3 separate regions of the Homo sapiens genome follow, and regions 2 and 3 are each reported to be linked to region 1. The links are microRNA targets in miRTarBase. Many come from high-throughput screens and were not tested one by one. Region 1 holds a microRNA gene; each other region holds the end of a gene's coding sequence. Distances are between the middles of the regions.

Region 1 (5,075 bases):
GGAGGGGAGGGAGTTCCTGAGTAACTCCACAGAAGAGAACCACGGAGGATCTGAGAGTGTTTCTTTCCACAGCATAACCTGGACCTTCCCCACAGGTACACTGTCTGATGTGTTTGATTACCCTGAGAAAGGCTTTATAGTTCTACCACAGTGCTTGGTGAAACACTATCAATAGGTAACTAGAAAACTTAGCAGACAACAAAATGAAAATGTGTATATACTTAGAAACAAAGACAGTTGAATAAGAAAATGATAATCATAATACTCATTACTCAGTTCTGAGCAAAACTGAAATAGTCATATAATATGCATACATGGTATTGCTCTAAACAAAAATAATTACTGTATTGGAAGAATGGGGAGTGAGATGTGTGTTGTGATGGTATAGTTAGACTGCTAAATCCTTATATTTCATAGTAGGAAGTCAATGAATACTCCCTCAAATTGAGAAACTGTGAAACTGACTATAGAGAATAAAAGCAGGGAAAAACACTCAAAAGGCTTCAAAGTGTTTCTTTCTGAAAAGTACATCATGGAAAAGCTGACAAGGTGAAGGCAGGGGCCAGATGGTTTTTGTTATTGTTGTTTTACTTGTTCTTGTTTTCTTGTAAGCCTTCTAATAATAGCTGATTTTTGAGCTATGTACAATCATTATTTTGGCAAGAACATTTTTTAAAGAACAGGTAATTTCTTCTCAAGAAATCATCTTGACTATAGCTGCTACAGCTATTTACAAAACGTACAGTTTTTTTTTCAGAAAATTAAACATTGAAATATTAGTATATATGTGATATAGTCATTCTTTTAGCATTTTTACCTTTCTGTACCACATAGGCTTAGAATAAGATCACATAAATGCTAATCTGTGGCAAGAAAATATGGGTCAGATTGTAGTGTTTCGCTTTTTTTATTGTCATAGAAAAATTATTCTTACATGATACTTGAGGAGTAGGAAATATTTATTCTTAGAAGTTAATTTTGTAACCTCCAAATTCCATATGCCTATAAATATCTAGATCTGGACCAGTTTAGTAAAAAAAGTTCTATTTTTATATATGTGAAATACACATGTATATTCCAAACTAAGCAAAAATAAAACATTAAATTTAATAAAGGGTTTTACTTGCTCTTTACTGAAAATGAATGCCACCGGGTGAATATTGCCCCATTTTTTTCTGTCCCTTATTCCCTGAGGCTATTCCAAAATTTCAATATAATGAAGTTAACACAATACAAAGTCCTCTCAGTGGCCGACTCACTCTAGAGACATTCCACAAGTATCCTAAGGAGATGGGGGAAAGATGGAGGGGAAACTGTTATTAGTAAGAACATATTTTCTTTCATTTATTTATAAAAACTTTCCAAAAAGAGAAAGAAATCCCACTCAAGCATAAATTAACTTCAGTTCATTTTAAAAGTATTTACTAAAAGCTGTCATAAAAATATATCAAATTCACTTTCTTCCATTACTTATGTTTTGAAAACTAAGTCTTTCATTTTGTTGTTCTCCTATTTAAATTATAGTAGATGTGTACAACATGAATAGACAGATGACAGCTGGATAATAGGCATCACAAATGCCTCTATGTTCACATTTCAGGAAAATTATGTCTTTCATAAGAAAATTCTGTGGGAGAACCAATAATACTGCCAGTTCTTCAGGTAGACTTTAAAAAGTCTTATCATATATTTCAAAACCAACATGTATGTATTTAATATTTACTTATCAACTTCTCTCCATATGCCAGTACAACGCCAACTTTTTTAGGAAAATCAACAAAGACCCTCATCTCCACCTTCCCTTCCTACATCTTAGTATCCCCTTCCAGCAAGCCTAATGGCCAAGAAAAACAGGGTTCAAGTTCCTGGCTCTGCCATTTTCTAGCTTTGTAATCACCAACGGATTACTTAACTTCTCTATGCCTGTTTCTTCAGCTGTACAATGGGGATAATATTATGCTTTCTCGTTGGGCATGTAAAGTACTTGGAAGAATGCTAGTAAAAAGTAATGTTATATGCATGTTCTCTTAAGGAGCTAAAGATCCATGAATAGATTTCAACTTGACATGCGCAAAAAATGCAATGTCTAATTTGAGCACCTTTGGTATTTTTGATGAATACCGAAGGTGTTCAAATTAGGCACTGCAATTTTATGCAAGCAGGGAAGATAAACTTGCAGAAGTGGAGCTGAGATTTTTAGAAGTTTGGAAGGGTTGGTTAGAATGATAGAGGGCAAGTTTTGTAGCTGCCTTATAAGGTCAAGTTCCCAATTTCTTCAGTCCTGGCCACTACCTTAGTGCCTCCACAAACACCCAAGATACAGCAGCATTGACAGCATTGACTAGGCTTGGTTCAAACACTGAGTCCTTTGAATTATTCTCTCACCACCAATTCATTTACATTTCAGTGATGCATCAGGCAAGGATACAGATGAACCATGTCACCTGCTTCAGCTTGTCCAAACTAAATAAAGTAGAACAAATAGAGTACAATAAAGGTTTGAAAAGCATAAAATACAGAAGATAATACAGATTGCATAGGATTATAAAATATAATTATACAGGATTATAAAATATAATTATACAGGATTATAAAATACAGAGATTTGCATAGCGAAAAAGCCTTCCTAAAATGCTGAGATAAAGATTATGTAAGTGATAACTGGTCAAAAAATAGGTGAATATCATGTGACATGTAGAGGTGGAGTGGGATGTCTTCAGAGGTTGTTATTCATTCCAGAGAGAGGAATTGTCCAATGGCAGCCAGAAGGAAGACCTGAGGCAGAAAAATTAAAACACCTCTCAAGAGTTCAGATGAGAAAGGCAGGCACATTAATTAGAAGCGTAATAATTAAAATGGACTCATGAGGACAACAATTTGAGCCATCTATGAATTGAATCAATGAGATCTGTAGTGAACCAAGCTTTAAAAAGAATTTAATAATCCAGCCTTGGGTGGCTGGTTGCATGTTGGTACCATATTTAAACACAAAAAATACCAGAGGGTAAATAGTTTCAAAGAGATGACAAAATTAATTTTGGACACTGTGGATTGAAATGTCTGCTGAACATGAAAAGACACCCAGTGGAAAGCAGTCTATATAGTTTTAGAGCTCTGCACAGAGAAGTAAGACAAATATCATGATTTGGAAATCATCAACATATAATTACATTTATTGAAGTTTAAACAAAGCAAACTAGAAATGAAAAGAGCAAAGAACCAAGGAAGAATCCTTGATAAAACATAATTTTTAGTGCTAAATAAAAGAAGGGAAGACTGTAAAGGAGAACTAGGATAAGATGAGTAGGACATAAAACAAAGAAGAATGATATCATAGAAATCAAGAGAAGGAAGTTTCAAGAAAGAGGAGGAGAATCAGAAAAAAAAAATTGTTCATTGGACCTGGCATGAAAAAGATCATCAGAAATTTTAAGAGAAACGTAAGTAGAGCCATAGGGCAGAAGAAAGAATGCACAAGATAGAAGAGTAAATAAGAGCCAGGAAAGAAAAGTTCAGGTTAAAAATGGGTGGAAAGCATGGAAATATATAGGGTACTGAAGGTCTTGATGATATGTAAAAATGAATCAGTTTGGTGTTAGTAAGGAAGTGTGAACACTGAAAGGACAAGTTAGAGTTACATGGTGGGATGTTGCCACGTAAGTTTCCAGAAGTAGAGCAATCTTGGTCATACTCAGGTCCAGCCTAACAAGAGGGTGCCAGGCAGAATTGGATATAAAAGTCACCAAACTAAAGGAACTATAAAGGCAGGGTCTGGAACAGGGTATTACCTGGGCAAAGAATGCGAAAACAATGATACTAGCATCTGGAATTAAGATAAAATAAAATAAAATAAAATAAAAAGAATAGAAGCTCCCGCCCAAACCCTCCATAATTGTGGAGGAATCACCAAAGGTTGACAAAACACAGTGACAAGAAAAAAGCAAAGGCTGTAATAAATAACATACGCCTCAAATAAGGGGAAATGTAATGGTGTATAATTTGTAAGAAGAGGGGTAACACATTTCCAAACCTGTGATATATGGGGAGCAGTATGAAAATGAGCAGCTTTTATTAAAAAGATTCTAATGTTACAGTTTGTTTCCTATTCAAATTAACAAATGGATGAACTCTCCTTGAAAAAACTGAAGGTGCTGGAAAATTTATTTGTAAGGGTGCACGTATTCCAAGAGGCTTAGAAGAAAAGATTAGCAGAGAGGGGCATGCCTGGACCATTAAATCAACAGAGTATGAGGATGAGACAGAAAGAGTACAGATGAATGAACATATTTTCAGAAAAGTATATTGTCAAACATTGTAGTAACTAGAAATAATGTTGTCAAGAGAAAATTCCTGTCAACTTTTATATCAGATTTTATTTTAATAGTAAATATATAAGCTTTGCTAGAAAAAGAACCTTGGGACTCAGGAGGAAGTTAATTAGCTTGAAGATTCCAAATGGAATTTGGGTTAAATTTTACCCAAGTACAAATATGATTCATGATTTATCACCCAGTCTAATATTCAGGAGACTTTGCCCAGGGTTCCAAACAAAACATTTTGTTTGTTTGTTTGGGGGTGGGGTTTGCAAAGATGAACTCCGAATGGAGAGGGTGCTTCCAGTAGGCGTGGGTCCCATGAAAAAGAGTCAGCACACATGTGTTCTGCTCAGAACAAGGACCATTCACAGGCAGAAGAGGCTTATCATTCAGTATTTGCCAAGCATTTATTATTTTCAAGTATGAGTACAATACGATGTAGAAGAGACTTGGAGTCTAGTTGGAGAAACTGCAGATATTTAAAAAATGACAACTCAAGGGAGTAGTTATAAAAATGAAATAATAAGCGCAAAAACTGAGACTAGGAAGAAAGCTCAGTAGTGAGGAAGAGGCAAAAGGAAGATCAGAAAATTAAAAACTAGCTATAACCTTAAGATACTATGCAATCCTGTTCTGTGTCAAACACTTTACACAAATTATCTCTTCAAAGAGAGGATGGGACTTGACTTACACATCAAGTAACTGGTAGTGAGTAAATAAACTGTGAAGAGAGGAAAAGAAACGTTTCCTCTAAAGGTT
Region 2 (5,075 bases), not on the chromosome of region 1:
AAACGATACAGTACAGTAAATGGAAAATTAGCCTCTTTTGCCATAAATAGATGGTTCTAGTAAAAGTAAAAATAGGAAAACAAAACTATGATTAAAGTTTAGATGTAGATTCTGTTGCAAGCTGAAGGCTCTGAGCTCCAGGCTTGCTTCATGGGGGAAAGAAAAAAGTGAGATAATCATTTTTCAAGACATACTAGCACTAAGCTGAGACTTTTACTTTGATGTGTTCTCAGCACTGCAAGAGAAGTGGAAAGGGAGTATTTTTTCCTAAGGGACTGGGGAAAGGGAGGATATTGGTTTCCCTTGGGACAAGACTGGGGCTCGCTGCGGGGAGGCACGGAGGGGCCGGCCCTCATCCCTCCTCTCTCTGGTCTCTGCAGTGCCCGGAAACGCCCCATCCCCTACTATCGGCCCAGCCCCTCCTCATCCGGCAGCCTCAGCAGCACCTCCTCCTGGTACAGCAGCAGCAGTAGCCGCTCGGCCAGCCGCAGCTACTCCCGGAGCCGGAGTCGGAGCCGGAGCCGGAGACGGAGCCGGACCCGCACGAGCAGCAGCTCTAGCTCCCGCAGCCCTAGTCCGGGCTCCCGCAGCCGGAGCCGGAGCAGGAGCCGGAGCCGGAGCCGGAGCAGGAGCCAGAGCCGGAGCTACAGCTCAGCAGACAGCTACTCCAGCACGAGGCGCTAAGTGCCCCTGAGCCAGCTGCCCGTGGGGGCCCCTTCGCGCTGCCAGCCTCCCCCAACCACCTGCCCTCCCCGCCTTCTTGGTGACAAATAGTGAGGGCTCCTATACCTTGTCCTTCCTGCTTGCCTAGGGGAAGAGGAGAAGAGGGTAAGGGGGCTTCACTCTCTAGATCAGCCTGCTAGGAGCCTCTACCAGCATCATCCTGGGGCCCAGCTCAGGCCTGGGCATATGGAAAGAACCATCATCTTGTGGCACAAAAAAAGAAGAAAGAAAAGAAAACTTCAAGGTTTTGTGAGAAGCAATGGGTCTGTGACTCAAAAATTGAGCCCTGGCCAGGAAAATGTGGAGACAGTTCTTCTCCTCCACTGCTCACAGGAGGCCCGTGGTAATTCTCCCCACCTCCCCGGATGCCCCACTAGTCCAACTTCATGGCTGCACGTGGATGGACCCCCATGTCTGAGAGGGGTGAAAGAGGAGACCAATGGCAGTTCAGGTTCAAGATAACGGGGTCAGGCCTTTAACTTCCTCAAACAGGCCCAAGCAAAGGCTGGAAGACATTTGGGTCCTAGAAGAAGGGATATCCTTGAATACCAGATGGGGACGTTTGACTTGGTGGGAGGTGTCAGGAGATAGGAGTTGGTTAAGATGATAGATAGAAAAACGGAAGGGTTCAGCTGCTGCTCCCAATACCTCAGCATGGTAAGGGGACAGAGCCCAGCAGATCCCAGCTGTGAAGAGGCCACTGCATGGCTGACACAAAACACCTCTTGGCCATTCACAGGGGCCCTGCAACCTCACGAGAAAGGAGATAGTGGAAGAGTCAGGACAGGTTGGTCTCCAGCCCCACTTCCCAAATATGCCTCAGCCCCACTAGCTGGCACCAACTTAATTCCACGGGACCATCTGCTGAACATTCCCCAGTGCCATGGCCAGTTGCCAGGCCCCAGCGCCAGCCAGTCTGGCCTTACCCTCCGGTTGGCGCCTGCCAGCCCCCTCCCCTCTGCCCAGGCTGCCACGCCCTGGATGCCACCCAGTGCAGCCTGGCACCTACCCACCCACCCTTCAGCTTAAGCCACTCCCCTTGCCTCTCAGGAATTTTGCCAGGATGGGGCACAGCAGCTCAGGTTTGGGGGAAAAGACCCGAATCCAGAGTGCAGGGGAGAGGGGCTTGGATATGCCATGTCTTGGGCTCCTGCTGGCTTCTGAGGTTTCTTGTCAGCTTGGGAAAGACCCACCTTTATTTTTGCCCTCACCCCAAGTCCCCCCTGGCTGGGGCTGGGCAGAGAGGGTAAGCTGATCTCCGATCCACAAATACCACCAGCTGCTTCATCCACAGAAGGCGCTAAGAACGGGGAGGTGAGGAATAAGATCCTTAAAATAAACTCTTGGGCATCCCCCTCACCAGCTGACTGGCTTTCCGGAGGCTTGTGGGTGAGTTTCAAGTTTGTGGTGGCAACAGCAGCAGGACAGGGCACGGAGGGAGCGAGGGAGAGAGGACCGGTCCCAGCTTTTGGATATTTTGGGTTATGGGGAAGCAAGGGCCAAACATTCTTTATCCCTCCCACCCCAGGGAAAACATTTGGAAAATAGTCCTTTTTCTTGGAAGCAGTGACGTCTCCCTACCCAATCTTTCCCATCCTATCAACCCATGGGGCTAGAGACTGCCATGCAACCACCACCACGACAGCCCTTCCTCCATCAGAAGACAGGAGTGAGGGCCCCGGGCAGCAGTGGACGACCCAGCCTCCCCATACCGGGCCTCTGGCCCAGACCTAAGCCCTGCCCACAAAGACTAATGGATGCCAGTGCTGTCACTGCAGAAGGCCAGATGGCAGGTGCCTGGGACAGGGGCAGGTGCCCCGGGGAGGGCAAGTACAGCCACTGTAAATAACCCTCGTCCCTGCCCAGGAACCCAGACTGGACTTCAGTCTCCCTCCATGGAGACAAAGGCTTCCCAGAGCCACCAAAAACCTTCTTAGCAGGACAGCTGTGAGAGGCATCAGAACCTCACGTTCGGACTGCCTTCATCAAGACAACTCTAGGGGACCATTTTGCCTGGGGCTCCTAGCAAACCTTTTTATTTATTTTATTTATTTATCTATTTATTTATTTGATGACTGTCTCTCTTTCTCGCCATTAGCAGTATTGAATTATTTATTTATACAGAGGTTTTGTGTGTGTGTGTGTGTGTGTGTGTGTGTGTGTGTGTGTGTGTGTGTGTGTTGGGGGGATCTCCTAAATTATTTCTGTGCATCTCCTTTTTTTTTCTGCTGTTTTTTATGGATGGGATTTGAGAGGCCAAAGGTGAGTGGGCTATTGGCCTTCTCCCTGAAGGCTCTAAGCCTGGAACACCCTGGGGTTGGCCCAGAAGGAGGCACATCAGTCCCAAAATTCATCACTTAACCCAGCGTCCAGGAGGGTCAGGCCTGTACCCCAGCCTCCTGTCCCCCAGGAACCTCACAGGGGTATCAAAAAGATGTAAACAGCCCAGAGGCTTATGAGCTACAGTGATGAATTGACACAGTGGAGTTGCAACTTAGGTGGGGGTTGGAGTCGAAAGTTGGCAAATGGGGCCAAGGCTGCACAAAGTCGAAATCCCTTGTGAATGTCCCTTAGGGAGGCACCAGATTGGAGACAGATGTGCTATCTCCTAACAGAGTGATGAGGCTTCAGTTGAGTACTTGCTGAAGTAGTTGCCTTGTATTTTGAGGGCCATGGTGGATGAAAATGATGTCTGGTTTAGTACTGGAATTGCACTTGGGGTTGACAAGGTGCTCACACCATGAGAATGGAGGCAGGAATTGAGCTGACTGAGGGAAGATGCACCTTGATCTCACCCTCACTCCAAGGCACATAGCAGGATCACTCCCTAGCTTCTCTGAGCACACCTAGTTGGTTTCATGTATGTTACACATGCTTCCACTCCACAGTACCTAATTTCTCTCTGTCCCCTGAGATCTGAAGGCTACCTTGGGAAGAGGCATCAGCCATCTTGCTTGAGAACCACCAAGCCAAAAGCAAAAGCTTTTATCTATGATCTCTTGCTGTTTCATCAGGGGAAAGCACAAAGCTATTTCTGAAATTAGGAAAAAAAAAAAAAAGGTGGAAGGAGCAGCCAGATGTTCCACAGGACCCCACCAAGAAGGTCATTTCCAAACCCATCCTGGAAGGGCCCAGGATCCAAAGGTCATCAGTCCTGCTTATCTGACCAACTGGCAGTGTCTTCTGGCTGCTGGCCGGAGACAGCTCTTGCCCTTTCCAAAGTCACTGTCCACTGCCTTGCAATTGCCAGCTTGTCTGGTCCAGCTTTGGGTTTGGTGAGACTTTTGCAACATCCCTGGTTGTTTCCCTGGCAATGTGACTATCCAGCCCTAACCCAAAGCAAGGGAGTGCCCCTTTCCTGGGTGAAGTTTACAAGAAGGCTGCTTAAATGCCTGCTTCGGGGAAATCTCTGCCTCTCTCTCTCTCTGTCTCTCTCTCTGTCTCTCTCTCTGTCTCTCTCTCTCTCTCTCTCTCTCTCTCTCTCTCAGTGTATTTCTCTACTTTCTTTTACATTTCCTTTTTTTCTATCCAAAAACAATGTGCTTGTTGAGGCACTGGTAACCCTGATTAACCAGAACCTCCCATTCCCAGTATCGCTGTTCCTACGCCCATTTCACCCTCATTACCTTCTGCTTCCAAGGAATATGACAGATCACCAGGATGCTGCTCGTCGTGAGGATTTATCTCAAAAACCAACATCCAAAATGGGAGGGAGATGTGGCTTGAGGTCAAGCGCCATGCATCCCAAGCCTTTGACCTTCCCGCTATGGAAGTGCACTGGATGACAGAAACTGAATACATTGCTCCCTTTCCCTAGGGCAAAGTTCGACCTCTGTTAAGTGGAGGGATTTGTGAGATAAAAATTCAAAATGTTGGCCTGAGGCCTGAGAGTGTCACCAAAGACAGAGGGAGCTTCACTGAGACTCAGAGGGAAAAGGAAAAGAGCCTCAAACATTTTTAGGAGGTTGTCCATCATGAAAGTAAAAACGAAAAGCAAGATTTGATCTCCCTTCAGTTAATTAGGCAAGGCTAAGTAACTCAAAGCCCCCTATTAGTAACATTCTGGTTCACTGAGGTTTGATCATATTCCTATCTGCATTCCTTCCCTTCTTTGAAGGACAGCTGATCTTTCAGAAGCAGAATAAAATTAAGATGTTAGAACAAAGGTCTCAGTCTCAGAGAACCGCATCACTTCATTTGCTCAGACCCATCCTCTTTTGCAAAAGGGTCTGCTTGGAGAGGCCAAAATTCAGGGTGCTCTCAAAGGCAAAGAAAGCACATTGTTTTCCTTCTCCAGTCCAACTTTCATCTTTTCTTCTGCTGTTTTCTTTTCCCCTCTTCTTTTTCACAAA
Region 3 (5,075 bases), 96 Mb from region 1:
CAATTTTGTTGGCAATATCCAAAGCATTGTAATCAGGAGCTAATGGAATATATGCCTTCCTCTCTCCGGGCCTGATCAAGGTGTTGACCTTGGCCGCATCAGTGTCATAGAGCTTCCAGCCTGTTTGATGTGGTGCTTACTAGCTTTAATATCCACAAAGAACACAAGCATGTTGTTGTCCTGTCTTCTTCCTGGCCAACTCAGTGGTCAGGGGAACTTGATAATGGCTTGTTTCCTCACTGCCTTCAGTGAGGAAGCCTTATTTAATTGTCTGTCTCTCCCCAGAGCCTAGAAGAATACTTGGCACATAGTGGGTATACAGTAAATAATTATTAAATATTTGAAATCTGAGATGAAAGTTAATGAATGTAGGTATGGGAATTGTACAAGGGATAGGAAGTACCTTGGAGAACTTCTGTAAGCTCCAGGCATATACTCAAAGATGGGAAGAGTAGGAATCAGCATTTTCAAAAGTCATTGGGGATGCCCATTTTTTTCTGTACTGTACAGGAAGAAGGGTTTGCCTGATCTTACACCATTGTTAGAGCTTGAGCTCTGAACAAGTGAAGGTTTACTCTTTGTTCTTTTTTTTTTTTTTTTTTTTTTTTTTTTCATTTCTAGGCCATTCCCCGATTTAACCAGAAAGGAGAAGTATATAAGGCACAGATAATGAATGTGAGCTGGTCAGCTGATCACAGAGTTATTGATGGTGCTACAATGTCACGCTTCTCCAATTTGTGGAAATCCTATTTAGAAAACCCAGCTTTTATGCTACTAGATCTGAAATGAAGACTGATAAGACATTCTTGAACTTTTTGAGCTTCCAAAGAGTATGTAAACCCTAGCTGTGCCAGCACATGTTCATCTTTACAATTTATATTGTAAATGATTTGTATCGTATGATTAAGGATCTAAGGCACAATATTTGTCACTGTTCTATTAGACTTTTTACTGAAAATGAATAATGGTGTAATGGTTCTCCTGGGGCTGTCACATTTTATAGGTCAGAGTGTGACTTCTTAATATGGTGCTGATGTTTTTGTGTCAATGGCTTGAAACTGGCAAGATTAACAAAATTAGGCCGGGCATGGTGGCTCACGCCTGTAATCCCAGCACTTTGGGAGGCCCAGGTGGGCGGATCACCTGAGGTTAGAAGTTTGAGACCAGCCTGGCCAACATGGTGAAACCTGGCCTCTACTAAAAATACAAAAATTAGCCGGGTGTGGTGGTGGGTACCTATAATCCCAGCTACTTGGGAGGCTGAGGCAGGAGAATCGCTTGAACCTGGGAGGTGGAGGTTGCAGTGAGCTGAGATCGTGCTATTGCACTCCAGCCTGGGCGACAGAGCAAGACGCCATCTCAAAAACAAAAAAACAAAATTCATGTTACTAAAAGACAGGTAGCCATATACAGACAGTATATGCCCTATTTTTTTTAACTGACTCTTAATGAAACTTTAATTTTACTTAATTAAGAAATGGAATTTATATACAAAAATATTTTCCATTTCCGTTATTATGCTAATTGTTGTATGAAATAAGTGCAATTATACTTCTCTTTTGAGATATCCAAGAGTATATTCTTGCTCTGTATAGAGAATATCATCTGATAGTGTCTTATTTATATTAATTAATGTCTTTGAAAAGGGAAAAGTATAAACTGGCCTTAAAATTGTCCAATTATAGTTTTATAACCAGTCTATTAAAGGTGTTTGTTTAAAATGGATATAGTTTTAGATTTGTGGTAATGCTTTGGTATTTTCTTGGGGAAGACCTTCACCTTTGCAAACTTCCCTCATGTAAGGAAGGTACTTTAAATGTAGCAGCCACTGACATTTCTTTTTTTAAAAAAAATTTGAGAAGTCTACTTCCTTTTAACTTTTTTGGTCTTCAGCTAAAAAATAGGATAAGAAATTAAGGTCTATTCCATTCTCCATATCCTGGGTAAGAATGTAAATAAGAGGAGAAGGAAGAGTCTAATAGTAATTATGGATATAAAAAATAAGAAATTTTGTATAGAAATGAAGGTTTCATAATGATCATTTTGTTAAAGGTCTACTTTAATCAGAAATAGCAACGAGATGAATGTATCCAACATTTCAATTTGCATTCGGAAATCCATGTTGTTTCTAATATTGTCCAGTTGAAAACTGTATGCCAAAATTAGTTGTTTAAGTGAAGTTTTGTGACAGAAAAAAGGTTGTTTTAATATCTACTTGGTTTTTCTCAAAATGGAAATAATTTTAAAATCAGGAAAGAATAAATCAGCCAGGTGTGATGACTTGTAACTGTAATCCCAGTTATAGGGGAGGCTGAAGCAGGAGGATCACTTGAGGCCAGGAGTTTGAGACCAGCCTGGGCAACATAGTGAGATCCCATCTCAAAAAACATTATTTTTAAAATTAGCCTGGTGGCTCACGCCTGTAATCCCAGCACTTTGGGAGGCCGAGGTGGCCAGATCACCTGAGGTCAGGAGTTCGAGACCACCCTGGCCAACATGGTGAAACCCCATCTCTACAGTTTTGTAAAAATACAAAAAATTACCTGGGCCTGGTGGCACACGCCTGTAGTCCCAGCTACTTGGGAGGCTGAGGCAGGAGAATTGCTTGAGCCCAAGAGGTGGAGGTTACAGTGAGCAGAGATCACACCACTGCACTCCAGCCTGGGTGGCAGAGCAACACTTTGTCTCAGAAAAAAAAAAAAAAACCAAAAAGCCAAGTGTGGTGGTGTGCACCTATAGTCCCAGCTACTCAGGAAGCTGAGACAAGAGGATCAATTGAGCCCAGGAGTTCAAAGCTGTAGTGAGCTGTCATTGTGCCACTATCCTCCAGTATGGGTGACAGAGTGAGACCTGGTCTCTAAAAAATAAAATAAAATAAAAAAAACAGGTCAAATAAATGCTGTTGTTGTAAAATTTCAGATAATACAAAGAGTTAACCAATAAAAGAAAAAGTCATTCATAATCTTACCACTATTAACATTTTGATGTATCTATCTGTATGTATGGCTATTCTTTTTTGTTAAAACATGATCATAGCATATCTACTATTTTATTATTTGATTTTTAAAATTTAACATTATATTATGGGTAACCTTACATGTCAATAAACAATTCCACATTGTCATGCTTTAAATGGCTGCATAGGCTGGGTGTGGTGGCTCACGCCTGTAATCCTACCACTTTGGGAGGCCAAGGCAGGTAGATCACAAGGTCAGGAGTTCGAGACCAGCCTGGCCAATATGGTGAAACCTCATCTCTATTGAAAATACAAAAATCAGCCAGGCACGGTGGCAGGCGCCTGTAGTCCACCTACTCGGGAGGCTGAGGCAGGAGAACTGCTTGAACCCAGCGGCAGAGGTTGCAGTGAGCCAAGATTGAGCCACTGCACTCCAGCCTGGTGATAGAGCGAGACTCTGTCTCTAAATAAATAAATAAATAAATAAATGTCTGCATAGTATTCCATTGTATGCATTTATTATACATTCAAACATTAAACATCTACCATACCAATCATGGTTCTAAGCATACAGTAGCCACCTTCATGCTTCCTTGATTGGGCTTACAGTCTAGTAAGGAGACAGATATTAAATAACTGCATAAAACACTGTTCTTGGTAGGTAATAACCCAGATGCTATGAGCCATCCAGTAAAGGTTACCGATCTTATCTGGAAGGATCAGAAGATGGATGTCCCATAATTTAACCAATTATCTATTGATAGGCATTTATTGAGTTTTAAATGAATAATGACATGATCAATAAAAATGTCCTCCTCACTTAAAGAATAGAAAAACCAGGAGAAGGGAGTTCTGAAATAAGTAAGTATGTAGGTCCAGCATCAATGGCTCAAGATACTCTATTCCCAAATAACCCTTAAGTTATCTGGTTCTATTCCAACCCTTGGGTATTACTATCTTCTCTTTGGTCTCATGCATTGAGAATTCAGCAAAGGATTTGTTCCCTACAGTGTGCACGGCCCTTAGGATAGCAGGATTCCCTGAAGAGGGCCAAAGGGGCAGGAGCGCAGCCTTAGTGGCAGTGCTGGTCCATGAGGCTCTACAAAGCAAGGGATGGGTGTTTGGGAGGAGGAAAAGGCTCTTGCTGTACTCCTAGAGGTTGGAATTAAAGTGGAAAAGCCAGAAAATTCAAGTCCTTTACTAACATGTCTGGAGATTAGAAGGTATATGTACATGGGGGAGAAGCCAAAATTATTGCTGCGAGTGGTCAGCAAGAAAATCAAGGCTCTTTTCATTATTTTGAGCATTCCTCTGATATTTGAAAAGGAAGTACAACAGGAAAGGAAGTCTGAGGATGGAAGCTAAAATTGGTATGAATTTATATTTTAGAGATCAAAATGTACCTTATGTTGAAACCTATGTAAGAAGTGATTATGTAGAAAGAGTGAAAGTGATAGCTCTTAGTCTGGAAAGCCCACTGGCTTGTTTGGGCATTTCTCATGGCTTCCCACTCAAAGTGGATCCCCAAAATCACTTGATGGATTTCCTTGCTGATTTCTAAGTAAACTATGGTTTAAGAAAGAAATGACAGGGCTCAGCACTGCCCTACAGTACCAAGAATACAAATGTTTCCATGAAGTCTTCAAAGGCATTTGTAAAATTCAGGCTGTAAGTGATTAGTTAGTTCATTCTGCACTTATTTATTAACTGTATATTCAGTTCCAGGCTCTAGGGTAGAGATTATGGATAAAGGTGAATTAGATAGATGAAGTTTTTGCCCTCACAGCAAAAGCTTTAGCCAATAATTAAAGCTATCACTGGAAGTGGGTCTGTGCCAATAACCTAGAGAAGAGCAGTGCTTTTAGAGTTGAGCTATATTCCCAATCAGTTCTTAATGGTGGTTTTACCCCCTTCCCTCTACACTGTCTTTTCTTGAGATTGGATCATGTGTGTGAACCCACATCATTTCCAGTCAAAATCACCAAGAGAGGCCGGACACAGTGGCTCATGCCTATAATCCCAGCACTTTGGGAGGCCTAAATGGGTGGGCCTCTTGAGTCCAGAGTTTGAGACCAGCCTGGGCGACCCCAGCTCTACCAAAAAAACCAAAAAACAAAAA

The links. The annotated mature microRNA hsa-miR-4735-5p reads CCUAAUUUGAACACCUUCGGUA and lies in region 1 at 2,119-2,140, opposite strand. An mRNA with a match to its seed (bases 2 to 7 or 8) in the 3' UTR can be bound and repressed. Matches are read on the target gene's strand: a 7mer-m8 pairs with bases 2 to 8, a 7mer-A1 pairs with bases 2 to 7 and ends in A, and an 8mer does both.
Region 2: the mRNA of SRRM4 is a reported target of hsa-miR-4735-5p. Seed matches in the 3' UTR shown: 7mer-m8 at 3,761-3,767.
Region 3: miRTarBase lists DBT as a target of hsa-miR-4735-5p. Seed matches in the 3' UTR shown: 7mer-m8 at 1,074-1,080, 7mer-m8 at 1,210-1,216, 7mer-m8 at 2,160-2,166, 7mer-m8 at 2,399-2,405 and 7mer-A1 at 4,712-4,718.

What each region holds. Positions count from the first base shown.
Region 1 is chr1:196,580,335-196,585,409 of GRCh38, forward strand. MIR4735 (microRNA 4735) reads right to left here and starts at 2,147; the gene lies at 2,079-2,147. The region is part of intron 1 of KCNT2 (potassium sodium-activated channel subfamily T member 2); the gene reads right to left.
Region 2 is chr12:119,156,115-119,161,189 of GRCh38, forward strand. It overlaps SRRM4 (serine/arginine repetitive matrix 4), which reads left to right. Exons shown (of 13, transcript NM_194286.4): 13 at 381-5,075. The coding sequence ends at 684. Among named protein-coding and RNA genes, the nearest start is that of HSPB8, 20 kb to the right of the region's middle.
Region 3 is chr1:100,191,969-100,197,043 of GRCh38, reverse strand. DBT (dihydrolipoamide branched chain transacylase E2) reads left to right here. Exons shown (of 11, transcript NM_001918.5): 11 at 622-5,075. The coding sequence ends at 789. It also overlaps the pseudogene RPL23AP90. Among named protein-coding and RNA genes, the nearest start is that of LRRC39, 16 kb to the right of the region's middle.